Linked DNA regions of Homo sapiens. The protein of the gene in region 1 interacts with the protein of each later gene in a biochemical or structural test. Each region holds a gene or a part of one and is shown on either strand. Other genes may lie near its edges.

The links. Proteins that work in one complex are often made in the same cells at the same time.
Region 2: the proteins of NTHL1 (region 1) and ERCC5 form a complex in vitro, tested with the Homo sapiens proteins (2 studies listed by BioGRID).

What each region holds. Positions count from the first base shown.
Region 1 is NC_000016.10:2,044,835-2,052,516, reverse strand, and holds the start of NTHL1 (endonuclease III-like protein 1), read left to right. Parts: upstream 1-4,682; 5' UTR 4,683-4,693; coding exon 4,694-4,808; intron 4,809-6,125; exon of another isoform or gene 6,126-6,150; coding exon 6,151-6,389; intron 6,390-7,682. Other genes in the region: TSC2 (tuberin), read right to left, coding at 2,031-2,117, 3,764-3,901. UniProt on the Homo sapiens protein: Bifunctional DNA N-glycosylase with associated apurinic/apyrimidinic (AP) lyase function that catalyzes the first step in base excision repair (BER), the primary repair pathway for the repair of oxidative DNA damage.
Region 2 is NC_000013.11:102,863,007-102,870,037, forward strand, and holds part of ERCC5 (DNA excision repair protein ERCC-5), read left to right. Parts: coding exon 1-97; intron 98-2,660; coding exon 2,661-2,905; intron 2,906-3,255; coding exon 3,256-3,375; intron 3,376-3,625; coding exon 3,626-3,839; intron 3,840-5,106; coding exon 5,107-5,251; intron 5,252-7,031. Other genes in the region: BIVM-ERCC5 protein, read left to right, coding at 1-97, 2,661-2,905, 3,256-3,375, 3,626-3,839, 5,107-5,251. UniProt on the Homo sapiens protein: Single-stranded structure-specific DNA endonuclease involved in DNA excision repair. Makes the 3'incision in DNA nucleotide excision repair (NER).

The sequences.
Region 1 (7,682 bases):
GCAACACAGTGAGACCCTGTCACGACAAAAAATACAAAACTTAGCCAGGCGTGGTGCTGCATGCCTGTAGTCCCAGCTACTTGAGAGGCTAAAGTAGGAGGATCACGTGAGCCTGGCAGGTTGAGGCTGTAGTGAGCCATGATTGTGACACTGCACCCCGGCCTGGGTGACAGAGTGAGACCTTGTCTCTAACCAAATAATAACAAAATGGCCGTGTTCTTTTAGATGTCATCTGACCAACATCCCAACCAATTCAGACAACTGGCACTCTCACCTCCTTTGTCTCATTGACAATACTCTTACCGTTGCAACCTGAGCTGCAAAGATCCGTGGACACAGGGCCCGGGACCATCCCAGCCTCGGAGGCCTATTTATCCACTCACAGGCTGCCCCGTACCCACACAAACAACTTTCAGAACAGGATGCAGGACGCTTGTTCTTTTTTTTGTTTTCTGAGACAGTCTTGCTCTGTTGCCCAGGCTGCAGTGCAATGGCACAATCTCAGCTCACCACAACCTCTGCCTCCTGAGTTTAAGCGATTCTCCTCCCTCAGCCTCCCAAGTAGCTGGGATTACAGGTGCCCGACACCATGCCCAGCTAATTTTTGTATCTTTAGTAGAAACAGGGTTTTGCCACATTGGCCAGGCGGGTCTCGAACTCCTCACCTCAGGTGATCCATCCACCTTGGCCTCCCAAAGTGCTGGGATTACAGGCGTGAACCACTGCGCCCGGCTAAGGACACCTGTTCTTTACACCTATCTTTGGTAGCGTACGGCCAGCACGTTTCAGATGAGCTGCTGCAGAGGTAGCAATCACTCTCCTCTTAGCAGATCTGAGCATGAGAGGTCCAGGTCTCACTGCTCTCCCACACACAAATGCTGGGCAAGGCAAGGGCAGAGCCCTCAGGTGCTCTACCAGCAACCTGCACTCCCAAAATGACCACTTCCTGTCCTGTCCACAAGTCATCAGGAAAGTCTGGCAATGTTTGCCCAAAATAAATATTTCTATGTCCGTGAGGTCGCCCAATACCACCGACCAGTCACCCTCCCAAAATGGCACCAAGACCAGCGTGCCTAGGATTGTTCTCTGTGGAACAAACCCTTTCTTGATTTTTCTTGGCCTGAACTTGTAACAGGAGAGAGCGAGTGAGCATGCGTTTCTATCAGCCACTACAAACTCTTCCTTTTTTTTTTTTTTGAGACAGAGTCTTGCTCCGTCACCCAGACTGGAGTGCAGTGGGGCGATCTCGGCTCACTGCAACCTGTGCCTCCCGGGTTCAAGCGATTCTCCTGCCTCAGCCTCCCAAGTAGCTGGGATTACAGGCATGTGCCACCATGCCCGGCTCATCATCTTTTAGTACAGACGGGGTTTCGCCATGTTGGCCAGAGTGGTCTTGAACTCCTGACCTCGTGATCCACCCACCTCGGCCTCCCAAAGTCCTAGGATTACAGGCATAAGCCCCCGCACCCCCGCTCGGCATAGAAATCCTTTCTGGTGTTGCTAGAAAAGCCTAATCCCTTTGCTCCCCATTTCCACGCTTGATTGGTCCCTCAAGGTTGTATTCGGGGCATTTCCAGTAGCTTCCCCATCACTACGATGAAAGCTAAATTCCCCTAAAACAGTGCAAACTGGCTGGGCGCAGTGGCTCACGCCTGTAATCCCAGCACTTTGGGAGGCTGAGGCATATGGTTCACGAGGTCAGGAGTTCAAGACCAGCCTGGCCAACATGGCGAAACCCCGTCTCTACTAAAAATACAAAAAGCCGGGTGTGGTGGCGCGTGCCTGTAATCCCAGCTACTCAGGAGGCTGAGGCAGGAGAACTGCTTGAACCCAGGAGGCAGAGGCTGCAGTGAGCCAAGATTGTGCCAGCCTGGGCGACAGAGCAAGACTCCATCTCAAAAAAAAAAAAAAAAAAAAAGTGCAAACCAGATCATCGGCAGTCAGCTGTCAACCATGTTCCTAAAAAAAGCAAACTCAGGCTCTGAATAGTCTACGTGCCTCTCTCTAGTAGCTCAACTGGATAAACCTACCTCTTCAAATTTCTTGGTTTTTGCGACTTCACAAATCTGCCCTATCATCCGGATGCGATTGTTGAGGCCACATTCCATGCTCAGTTCCTGGAGAGAGATGAAAGAAGAAAAAGGGGCCAGTGCTCAGGCCACGGTCTCCTTAACTGCAAGTCACAAACCACCTAAAGACTCCCACTGCATTTTCCAGACTAGAGACTTAAAACAGATCTTTCTGGAATCAAGATTCACTTGACGAGCCGCGGTGGCTCAGGCCTGTAATCCCTGCACTTTGGGGGGCCAAGGCAGGTGGATCACCAGAGGTCAGGAGTTTGAGACCAGCCTGCCCAACATGATGAAACCCTGTCTCTACTAAAAATACAAAAAATTTGCTGGGCGTGGTGGTGGGCGTCTATAATCCCAGCTACTCGGGAGAGTGAGGCAGGAGAATCCCTTGAACCCAGGAGGCGGAGATTGCAGTGAGCCGAGATCGCGCCCCTGCGCTCCAGCCTGGGTGACAAGAGCGAAACTCGGTCTCAAAAAAAAAAAAAAAAAAAGATTTACTGAGGGGCTTTACTGCTCCATCCCGAGGAGTTGAGAATGTGCAATTTTTTTTCACAACTGCAAATGTTGTATTGAGATAAAACATAACATGAAATACAATTTCAAACTGCACAATTTTTTTTTAGACGGAGTTTTGCTCTTCTTCCCCAGGATGGAGTGCAGTGGCGCGATCACGGCTCACTGAAACCTCCGCCTCCCGGGTTCAAGCAATTCTCGTCTCAGCCCCCCGAGTAGCTGGAATTACAGGCGCCCACCACTATGACCGGCTAATTTTTGGTATTTTTAGTAGAGACGGGGTTTCGCCATGTTGGCCAGGCTGGTCTCAAACTCCTGACCTCAGGTGATCCACCCGCCTCGGCCTCCCAAAGTGCTGGGATGACAGGCGTGAGCCACCGCACCCAGCCAGGATGGACTATATTTTATTCATCAGTTGATGAACGTTTTAGTTGTTTCTAAGTAGAAAACTTTACAAGTGCAAAAATTCAGCATTTACTCATGGGCAAAACACAATGCCAGGCATGTGTGACAAAGACACAAACACACATAAAAGATAACGACCTAGCCCATGTGCGATGGCTCATGCCTGTAATCCCAGCACTTTGGGAGGCCAAAGCGGGCAGATCACCTGAGGTCAGCAGTTCAAGACCAGCCTGGCCAAGATAGTGAAACTCCATCTCTACTAAAAATACAAAAATTAAATGGGTGTGGTGGCACGTGTCTGTAGTCCCAGCTACTCAGGAGGCTGAGGCAGGAGAACCACTTGAAACTGGGAGGCAGAGGTAGCAGCGAGCAGAGATTGTGCCACTGCACTCCAGCCTAGGCAACAGAGCAAGACTCAGTCTCAAAAAAAAAATAAAATAAAGAACCTACTTCTCCCAGGAACTCACATCTTATCATGTAACACCTGGACATATCCTTACCTGTGAAGATGATGATACTCAGGCCTCATCTATAAGATGGGCTTTCTTTCATCAACATCTGAATAGTAACTCAAGTGTGCCTGAACCAGGTCACCAAGATCCTGACTTTCGAAGTCTCCTGAGGAAGGACATGTCGGCCTCCAAGTACTGGAGACAGCATTCCTGTGTAGACAGTTGCCAGCAACCCGTCTCCCACAGAACCTGGTGCAAGACCAAACCCAGCCTTCTCTGCATTTCCCTCTAGCCTAGCAAAGACACAGGTAGCTCACTCACTCTCAGTATTTCCGCGGTGATGATAAACTCCGTCTGTTTACCCTCTGCAGACCTGGGATTTGGCCTCGGTGTTCCCAGTCCCAACAGAATCTTAAACTTCTCCTTCAAGCCTGAATCTTTGCTTGTTGGTTTGGCCATGGTGGACCAGGACGCACCAGAAAACCCCTCTGTGCAAACGAAACAGGAATGGGGACATCTGAGCAACACCTCTGCCCACCTTCCCCACTGCGGACCTCCAGCCGTCAGGACCCTGGGTCTCTGGTGGGCATAACCTTTCCTCCCACACTCCCTGGGAGAACTCAACTACAGCCCAGCTGACCAGCTCGCAAACAGGCACCTAGGAAAGCCCGGGAGACACCAGGCCTGGTCTAGAGAGCTCTCTACTCAGACGCTGCCGCCCGCCCCGCCCGACTCAGTGCACGGGTTAGGACTGCCGCCGCGAAGTCCTGGGAGCCCCGACGTTTGCCGTCTCTCCTCTACCCATGTGAAGCAGGAGCTGTCACGGAGCCGCCTGCAGCAGAGACCCGTTCGCACCCGCCATGACTTAAAACTAAGGGATGCTCGGAGCTCCGGAGTCGGGTTGCAGTGGGCGCGGGTGAGGGCCCGGGACCCGGACACTGCGGGGTCCGCCTCTCTAGGCCGCTGCCCCGTGGGGACCGCCACTTGCCCCGTGGGGACCGCCACTTACCCCGCGCCGCGCCACCGCGCTCCGGGCCGCCCCGACGCGGAGAAAGGCGCACCCCCCTGGCCCCGGGACGCCGCCGGAAGCGCGACCCGCACTTCCGGTAGCGGCATTGCGCGGAGGGCCGCCTTGGGAGCTTGCTGGGAGTTGTAGTTCTGTGCCGCCCTCTGGCGGAAAGGCCGGCGATCCTTGCATCACGTGACGGGGCCGCATGGGCCGCCGGGATGTGTAGTCCGCAGGAGTCCGGCATGACCGCCTTGAGCGCGAGGATGCTGACCCGGAGCCGGAGCCTGGGACCCGGGGCTGGGCCGCGGGGGTGTAGGGAGGAGCCCGGGCCTCTCCGGAGAAGAGAGGCTGCAGCAGGTAGCGCCGCGCCGTGGCTGGAGCGTGGGAGGAGGCGGGATAGGGGCTGCAGGCTGGAGTCCCGGGCCGCCTCCTGCGGCTCCCAGCTGCGCGGGCAGGGGCTGCAAACCCGGCAGCCGCGAACGGTTCCCACGTGCGGCCCTGCGTTCCCACCTTGCGCCTTTTTCCCAAAGATTGCGGTCCGCAGGGGCTGGGTTTCGGGCGCTCCGCTCCGCTGCCCCCTTTCGCCCCAAGCAAGAAAACGCTTCCTTTCCCACCACTCTGTCCGGGACTCTCCACTCCAGGCTCTGTGGGTCCCATCCCCGCCCTCCTGCAGTGAACTTGCTGTCCTCGGAGAGGCTGGGTGCCAAGGACACACGCAGCCAGAAGCCTGCTCCCCCAGCTCGGGGGAGGGTGCCTCTGAGGGAAAACAGGAAAGGGCATGGCACTTATTATATTTATCCTGCAGCCGTTGAGGACCTGCTGGGGGCCAAGCACTGCAGTGAGCAGTGAGGGACACGGACAGGGCCTCTGCGCTAGTCCCGCTGGGACTTCTGCAGAATTGGCCAGAGCTGGATTCCCATAGGCACCCAGGGACCCCAGGGGTAGTCCAGACTATGTCAGGAGGAACTGGTGCAGCTGGGAGCAGGCAGGTGGTGATGCCAGCCAGGGTGGCAGGAGCTTTGATGCCAGGATAGAGTTTGGAGTTTATTATGACAGTAAACGGAAGTCAATTAGGAGGTTTTGTTGTTTGTTTTGAGATCGGGTCTTGCTCTGTCACCCAGGCTGTAGTGGAGTGTTGTGATCTCAGCTCACTGCAACCTCCGCCCCCCAGGTTCAAGCAGTTCTCCTGCCTCAGCCTCCCAAGTAGCTGAGACTATAGGCCCCTGCCACCACACCCGGCTAACTTTTGTATTTTTAGTAGAGATGGGGTTTTGCCATATTGGCCAGGCTGGTCTTGAACTCCTGACCTCAAGTGATCCACCCACCTCGGCCTCCCAAAGTGCTGGGATTACAGGCTTGATCCACCGCGCCCGGCCGGCCAGGATTTTTTAAAAGGGAGTGACACAACCTGATGTGGGTGTTAGCAGACTGTCTCTGGTGCAGTATAGAAGATGTATTGGGGGCACCTTGGTACAGGCTGTTGCTAGAGTCCTCATGAGCTAACATGGACCTTGTCAGGGTCGCTGGCATAAGGAGGGCCCACATACCCCAGACTGCAGAGGGCAGAGCACCCCAAGTGTATTAGATGATGGACAGTTGTGGCATGAACGAGTGAGGGGTGAGCTAGCAGGCGGGATGGCACCCCTACCCTACCTTCACCTGTGGCCCCACCAGAGGGACTGCGTGGTGCTTTTTGCAGAAGCGAGGAAAAGCCACAGCCCCGTGAAGCGTCCGCGGAAAGCACAGAGACTGCGTGTGGCCTATGAGGGCTCGGACAGTGAGAAAGGTGAGGGGGCTGAGCCCCTCAAGGTGCCAGTCTGGGAGCCCCAGGACTGGCAGCAACAGCTGGTCAACATCCGTGCCATGAGGAACAAAAAGGATGCACCTGTGGACCATCTGGGGACTGAGCACTGCTATGACTCCAGTGCCCCCCCAAAGGTAGGCAGGGGCCCCATCTGCCCAGATGACCCCCCATCTTAGCAAGGTCCTTGTTTTCTTTCTACCCGGTGGCTTTTGGCTGGCACCCTCCCCTGCAGACAGCACCTTGGGAGGATGGACACCCGGTGCCCCAGAGCATCGCCTGCATCACTGTAGCCACTCAGCAGGTCAGGACACCAGTGGTTTAGGGCCTCGTGCTCGAACTTCTGCCCAGTGCAGGCGTGACCTGGGCTTTGTGTGATATCAGGAAGGAAGAGTTCCTTTTGCTTCACGGTCCCAGGGCCTGAAACCCTTAGACCAAGCTGAGTTCTAATCCCTATTCTGCTACCAGGTGGCTTGGATACAGGCCTCTCTGAGCCTCAGTTTGCTTGTCTGTAAAATGGGTAGTATGGGCCAGGCATGGTGGTTCAGGCCTGTAATCCCAGCACTTCGGGAGGCCAAGGCGGGTGGATCACCTGAGGTCAGGAGTTCGAGACCAGCCTGGCCAATGTGGCGAAACCACGTCTCTACTAAAAATACAAAAATTAGCCAGGTGTGGTGGCAGGCACCTGTAACCCCAGCTACTTAGGAGGGCGAGGCAGGAAAATCGCTTGAACCCCGGAGGCGGAGGTTGCAGTGAGCCAAGATGGCACCACCACACTTCAGCCTGGGTGAAAGAGTGATACTGCATCTCAAAAAAAAAAATTTGTTTTAAAGGGTAGTGTGATGATTCACGAAGCAATCATAATAGTAGTGGCCAATGGCTGTTCAGTAGTGATGGGCCAGATACGATCGTGTTGGGTTTTTTTTTGAGACCAAGTCTTGCTCTTGTTGCCCAGGCTGGAGTGCAGTGGTGAAATCTTAGCTCACTGCAACCTTCGCCTCCGAGGTTCAAATTATTCTCCTGCCTCGGCCTCCCGAGTAGCTGGGATTACAGGCATGCACCACCGCACCCAGCTAATGTTTGTATTTTTAGTAGAGACGGGGTTTCACCACGTTGATCAGGCTGGTCTCAAACTCCTGACTTCAGGTGATCCGCCTGCCTTGGCCTCCCGAAGTGCTGGGATGACGGGTGCGAGCCACCACGCCCGGCCACATACGATTCTAAGCACTGAGATAATTCATTTAAGCTTCACATTACTCCAGTGAGTCAGGTACTATTATTGTCCTGGTGTTGTAGATGACCAAACATACCCAAACCAGACCTCCCCACCCCACAGGGGGAGGCTGATGCCTCAAGTGTGGCCCAGGGCAACAAACCAGGGTGTGTCGAGGGCGGGGGGCGGAGCCTGGCCAGGGAATCACCCAGGACCC
Region 2 (7,031 bases), on another chromosome or scaffold:
GAACAGCAGACCACTGAATCTGCAGGCCAGGATTTAATTTCCATTCCAAAGGCCGTGGAACCAATGGAAATTGACTCGGAAGAAAGTGAATCTGATGGTACGTGTCTGTGCTTTTGTAGAAATCTGGAACGGTAGGATTTCCCCTCTGTAGGAATTCAGAGATCGGTTAGTGTAGTCCCGTTTTAACTTTTTACAGATAAGGAACGAGAGACGTAGAAAGAAAGATGAAATGACTTTCCCAGGGAGTCACAGCTGGTCATGGAATCTTGACCTTCCCTGTGTTGCTCTGCTTTTTGTTATCATTTTTAAAGGCATGAAGTGCCCTATTTGGGGAAGGTAAAGTTGAGTTTCCCTCTAGTTTTTAAAAACTTTTTATTTTGAAATAATTATGAACTTTAAAAAGTTGGAAGAATATTATAAAACACTGGTTCCTTCATCCAGTACCTCAGTGGCTAGCATGTTACCACATTAGCTTAGAATTTCTCTTGGTCTCTCTGTGGCCCTCTATATGTATATCATATATCTCCAAATCTGTATACATATGTATACCATTGATCCTCATTATTTGTAGATTCCATATTTGCAAAATTGCCTGATCACTAAAATTTATTTATAACTCCAAAATCAGTACTCACCGCAATGTCTTTGTGGTCATTTGTGGACATTTGCAGAGTTGGGGAAAAGCTTGAGTTGCCACACTGTCCCCTGCTGAGGTTAAGCAAGGTGACACTCTGCCTGGTTCCCGTGTTCTGAGAGAGATGACCAGAGGGTGGGGACAGTAGGGGATTATGCAATGGAGAGAGAGCAAGAAGCTCCGGCCCCAGGCCAGTTGGACCAGATTTGAATCCCTATTCTGGCACCTGTTAGCGTGGCAGCTTCACACAGGTCACTAATTTGTTTCTTGAACTTTGTTTCTTGTTTATAAAATAAATGGAATCTATTAAGATGGTGGTTTTTTAGGATTTAAGATAATATATATGAAATGTGTTCATATATATGTTATATATGCATATGTGTGTATATGCACATAGATATGTTTAGGAGCAATGACTCGGTATTGGCTAATTTAGTGTTCACAGAGACTTCATACGTGATGGCCACTTTGAATAAGAGAATCAACCACACACACACACACACACACACACACACACACACACACAATTTGTTCCTGGTATCTGCTAGTTTTCTTCATTCAAATGTTACTATTTCCCTTTTGTAATTAATAAGTATTTTGTGGAAAAGGAATTTTTGGAGCTATATAAATATGCTGTTCCTGAACAAACTTCCACCCACTTGTTAGCATCCATTGATGTTTACCTGAATAATTTGTTACTACGTTGGTTGCCAAATGATGGTTTTTCTAACTCCATCATTCCTTATATATTATTACTTGACATCCTCCTATGAGGAAGATCTTTTCCTTCTCCCCATTTATTTTTATTATTTTTAATCAGTGTAGACTCCTGTATTCCTATTTAGTGAGTTATAATCCAATACTGTCATAATTTACTTTGTTACTCAAATTATCACAGCTTTGGCCATTGGGGCTCCTTCTAATGGCTTTCAGCAGTTTTTTCATTATATTTTGAGCTTTTCCTTGCTTTCTGGCCAAGCTGTTTCAGGCATATGTTGTACTTTCTCTGCCCTGGTCCTGGAACCAGCCATTTCACCAGGGAGCTCTGGTTCCTTTCAGTGGAGCATGGGGTTTAGACACCACAAGCTGGATGTGAGTGTGCTTATGGATCCTGAGGTATAACTGTCTCAGGCCTTTTCAGCAACAGTGCCAGGAAGTATATTTATGTATACATATACATGCACACACACATCTATATTTATTTCTATGTCTATCTGTACTAAAATCCATGAGTTTATACTGACATCTGCAATTCCATGGGGTTCAGTCTAGCCTCCTGCTTCTTTATAGTTTCCCTAACAATGAGAAACATTGCTCCCCTTATCCTCAATACATTTACATCTGCTTATTCTCCCTGGATATGTAACCATCTCCCCCTCCCACTGGCCTCCTCCTTGGCCCTGCTCTCTTCTTTGCTTCAGCTGTGTCCTTGGTGCCAGCTCCCAGTCCCTGAGAGCCCCCTCCTCTGTTCTGATTGTCTCCTTAAACCCAGCTGGACAGGCCTTGCCAGCCCTCTCCACCTACAGGGAAGGAAGGCAACCATTAAATATATTTTAAGGAGAAGGAAAGACAGTAAGACAGTAAGAGAGGAGAGAAGGGAAGTGGAAGAGGAAGAACTATTTCTTAGTCACAGCTTTATTCTGTGCTGTGTAAATAGCATAAAAACATACTGAGCAACTTCCATGATTGTTTATATACTTTGATAATCCTCCTTTTTGAATTTTTAAAACAATGTCAGTTAACTTAGAACATATTTATATAAAGCGAATATACAAATCTTAAGAGAGTTTCCTACTTTCAAAGACAGTGCCAGTTTACCTAATTGAAAAGGCTTGTTTTGAAGTTACAGGCATTTGTGATTACATTTATTTATTAATAACGCTACTATTACATGTATTCTGTTATAGTCATATCTTTCCTTTTTAGGATGTAGCATTTTTCAGGTTCCTCCAGAAAGCTCTTGATGATTGCAGGATCATTTTAATGTTTTGATTGTAGATGAAGTGACCTTTTAATTTTGGTACAGGAAGTTTCATTGAAGTGCAAAGTGTGATTAGTGATGAGGAACTTCAAGCAGAATTCCCTGAAACTTCCAAACCTCCCTCAGAACAAGGCGAAGAGGAACTGGTAGGAACTAGGGAGGGAGAAGCCCCTGCTGAGTCCGAGAGCCTCCTGAGGGACAACTCTGAGAGGGACGACGTGGATGGTGAGCCACAGGAAGCTGAGAAAGATGCGGAAGATTCGCTCCATGAATGGCAAGATATTAATTTGGTAATACCGTAACATTGTGTTTCGACTTCTTGCTGAGGAAGCCAGGTTAAGTAGGTTTTGAGTTTTAAGGAGTTGGTGGATGAGTATTTAGTAGCTATTTGCAGTACATCTTGTGGTTGCTGATGGCTTCATTTTTGTGTAGGTTACTGGCTGGGATAGACTCCGTTTTCCATGTGGTTTAGTGATGAATCTCTAAAGATATTACAGAGTCTTGGTTAGACATCCAGTGGAGTACTTCCTAAGGAGAAAGAGCTTATTGGTAATTTCAGTCAGACTAAATGCAGGCTTTTTGTAAACAAAACTCATTTGGATTATTAATATAAATCTATAAATGAAAAAACATTTTATAGGAGGAGTTGGAAACTCTGGAGAGCAACCTCTTAGCACAGCAGAATTCACTGAAAGCTCAAAAACAGCAGCAAGAACGGATCGCTGCTACTGTCACCGGACAGATGTTCCTGGAAAGCCAGGTGGGTGCAGGCAGCTTGGGTTTCCTTTACCACCTTCTTCAGACCCCTGGGGGAATGCACTGCATGAAGGGGGTATGCACTGTGCCCCCTGGTGCTCAGGGCCTGGTGATGCCGTTCCCTGGGGGTCACTGTGTGTCCCTAACTCTGCAGGAATGAATGCATTACATGAAGTGGTAGGCACTGCTCCCCCTGTGCTCAGGGCCTGGCGGTGCCCTTCCCTGGGCGTCACTGTGTACCCCTCACTCTGCAGGAACTCCTGCGCCTGTTCGGCATTCCCTACATCCAGGCTCCCATGGAAGCAGAGGCGCAGTGCGCCATCCTGGACCTGACTGATCAGACTTCCGGAACCATCACTGATGACAGTGATATCTGGCTGTTTGGAGCGCGGCATGTCTATAGAAACTTTTTTAATAAAAACAAGTTTGTAGAATATTATCAATATGTGGACTTTCACAATCAATTGGGTAAGACTTCAGAGTCTTTTTGATTACTTTCTGACATTTACCTTCAGAGTTTGTCCTAGGAAGTTTTCTTTCCAAGGAACTAGTTTGATGCATTGATGGAAATTGCAGGTCTATGCAAATTTTTATATGAGTGATCTTTGGCTTATATAGAGGAATAGGATTTTAAACATTTGAATTAAGGAATTAAAGTCCTAGTATGTTTAGGTAGTTAATCAACTGACTTAGTTAAACTTTGACTAGTTACCCGAGATCTCCACAGTGAACAAAAGGTGGTGGAGAGGGGAAGCAGGCCGCGCCTGGGCCTGTATTCGGGTTTCTGGCACTGATCTTCTTCTGTTCATCCAGCAAATATATGTTTGGTGACTCCTATATGCCAGTTGTTCTTAACAAGAGGGAAGGAACAGAGAGTAAAATAGTAGGAGAAACAGATGATAAGCAGATACATAAATCATAATTTGACAGTTGGTGGTAAGTGCCAAATAGAAAAATATAACAGTAAAGGAGAGGAGAGAGTGAACTTCAGGCATCGAGAGTGCAGGTGCTGTTTCAGAGAGTTGTTGGGAAAGGCTTTACTCGTGTAACTTCAAGGCAGGGACCTGCAGGAAATAGGAAGCAAGCACTGTAGATAGATACCTCGGGACTAGTGAGTGAAAGGGGCTGAGGCAGAAGCTTGTGGGCTGTGTTCTAGGGAAGCAAGGAGGCCAGTGTGAGAGGAGGAGGGAGGAAATGGCAAGGGTTAATCTTAGAGAATAGGAAGAAGCTGAAACCCACCAGGGTCTGGTGTGCTAGGGTATGCAGGCAGATTGAATGTGGGGTGGGAGAAGAATGAAGTCGAGGAGGATTCCAGATACTGAGCAGCTGGTCGAGTGGACCTGCCTTCAGTAAGACAAGGAGGGAGCACAGTGGAGGAGGAGAAACGAAGTGTTCAGGTTTGGATATGATAAATTGGGGATGCTCATTGGATACCCAGTGGAGGTGTTGAGTTGATAGTTGAATATATGTGACTGTGGTTCAGAGAGACTCAGGCTAGATAGCTAACTTTGGGGGTCAGCGTATAGAGGGTATTTAAAGCTATGAGAATGGATGAAACTTTAAAAATATTAACAGAATGCCATTGAATAAAATAATTTATTTTCAAATAATAAGATATTTTTGGTGGTTGGATATAGATATAGATATACACACGTACATGATTTATATAATAAAATGTTTATAAATGTCATATAAGAAATCTTGATAAAAATTAAAAAATATTGTTACTCTTTAGGATTGGACCGGAATAAGTTAATAAATTTGGCTTATTTGCTTGGAAGTGATTATACCGAAGGAATACCAACTGTGGGTTGTGTAACCGCCATGGAAATTCTCAATGAATTCCCTGGGCATGGCCTGGAACCTCTCCTAAAATTCTCGTAAGGTCTTTTATTTCTTTAATTTGGATAATTGTGTAAATACCCAAATAAGCAAATAGAACTATTATTTACAGCATGAACTGTCATGCTGTAACATGTGAACAATGGTTCACTGAGAAAGCAGCAGAAAGTATTGGTTGTTTTCCATTTTCTAGAGATGATGAAATCAGAGTCAGTTCTTAGTGGTGCTGGGCTTATCCTAGTTCAAGGGTACAAAGCCAGTCCTGTGGATTTCACAGGAATGTAGAAGTTGCCTTTTCATCCATTGACATACTTATAGAGCAGCTATGATGTGTCAGACACTGTGCTGGCCCTGGGGAAAGGAGAGATGAGTAAGGCATAGGCCATACCCTCAAGGACTCCCCCCATATACTTGGAGGTGATGGAGAAGCAAAGCAAATTGTACTTGTCTGTGTGTTTGGTGTCCTGAGAGAGGTCAGCCAGGAAGCGACTTGGAAATATAATGCCAGGAATGTTACATCCAGCACTCCTGTCCTGTTTCTCACCATGTGAATCCCGTGACGTGTTCAGTGGTGAAGTCTTGCTCCATCCAGAACCCAGAGTCGTGCTATACTCGGGGTACATTTATCATTTTGAAGATTCTGAGATGGTAGGAGTTATGAGTATGTCTGGGAAAGTAGTTTTTTCTTTGTCCTTGATGGCATCTTTTTAAAAAATTGAAATATAGTCACATACCACAGAGTTCACCGATTTAAAGTGTACAGTTCATTGGTTTTTAGTGTATTCACAAGATTGTGGTGGCATCTTTTAACCGTCACTATGTCGTGAGATGCTGTTTGGTGGTGGCTGATTTAATGATCCTTGAGTGTTCTCTCCAGTTACATATCCTGTGTTTGAAAGATGCTAGGATGCTCTGACCTGAAGAGTCAGTGACTGGAATCACTGAAATGAACGGCGAAACTGTTGTAGTGATCATGGTCTTCCAGTCATAGCACACTCACCAATGTGTTGTATTTTATACTTTCTTCATTTATCTTTTTCTGATTTTCTTATTGTTGAGGAAATTTATATACCGGGAATGAGTTATGAGGTAGACATACGTCATGGTAGGTAAATAACTTGAAAACCTACAAATAACTTTATTATACAAATAAAGTAAATACATCATAGAAAATTATAAATATGTATTAAAAAGATGATTACAGTTTACAATTTGTTTATGTAATTTTAGACTTCACACATATATATGCATATACATTGCATATATATGTATACTCATTTGAGTGTGTGTATGATTTTTTTTATAAGAATGGGATGATGCTATATACTTTTTATTTTACCTGTAACCCATTTGGTATTAGAACAAGACCTATTATCAACGATGATATAGATTTATATCGTTTTTAATGGCTACAGGTAGTATCTTTTTGCGTCTATCAGGGCTAGTTTAATCAAGTGTCTTTTGTTATTTCTATTTTTAGAAAGGTATTAACAGACATTGATTTGAGTGTCCTTAATCTTCGGGTTCTTATCTAATGATTATTTTAGAATAAGTGAAATAGTATCTGACTTTTCCATTTGGTTTCTTGATAACTATTGAGAGTGAATTTTTTATGTTCATAGACGGTTTGTGTTTCTGATTTAGTGAATGACCTGTTTATGCTGTTCCACTTTTCTTTGTTCAGCAGTTTTTGCTCGTTTGTTGCCTGCTGAATCATTTTCATATTTGAGCAGTTTCTGCCTTTGGTCCTCCAGCTCGTTGATGCCAGATAGGAGCAGCCTTCGCTCTGCCTGGCTCAGGACATTTAGGATGAATACA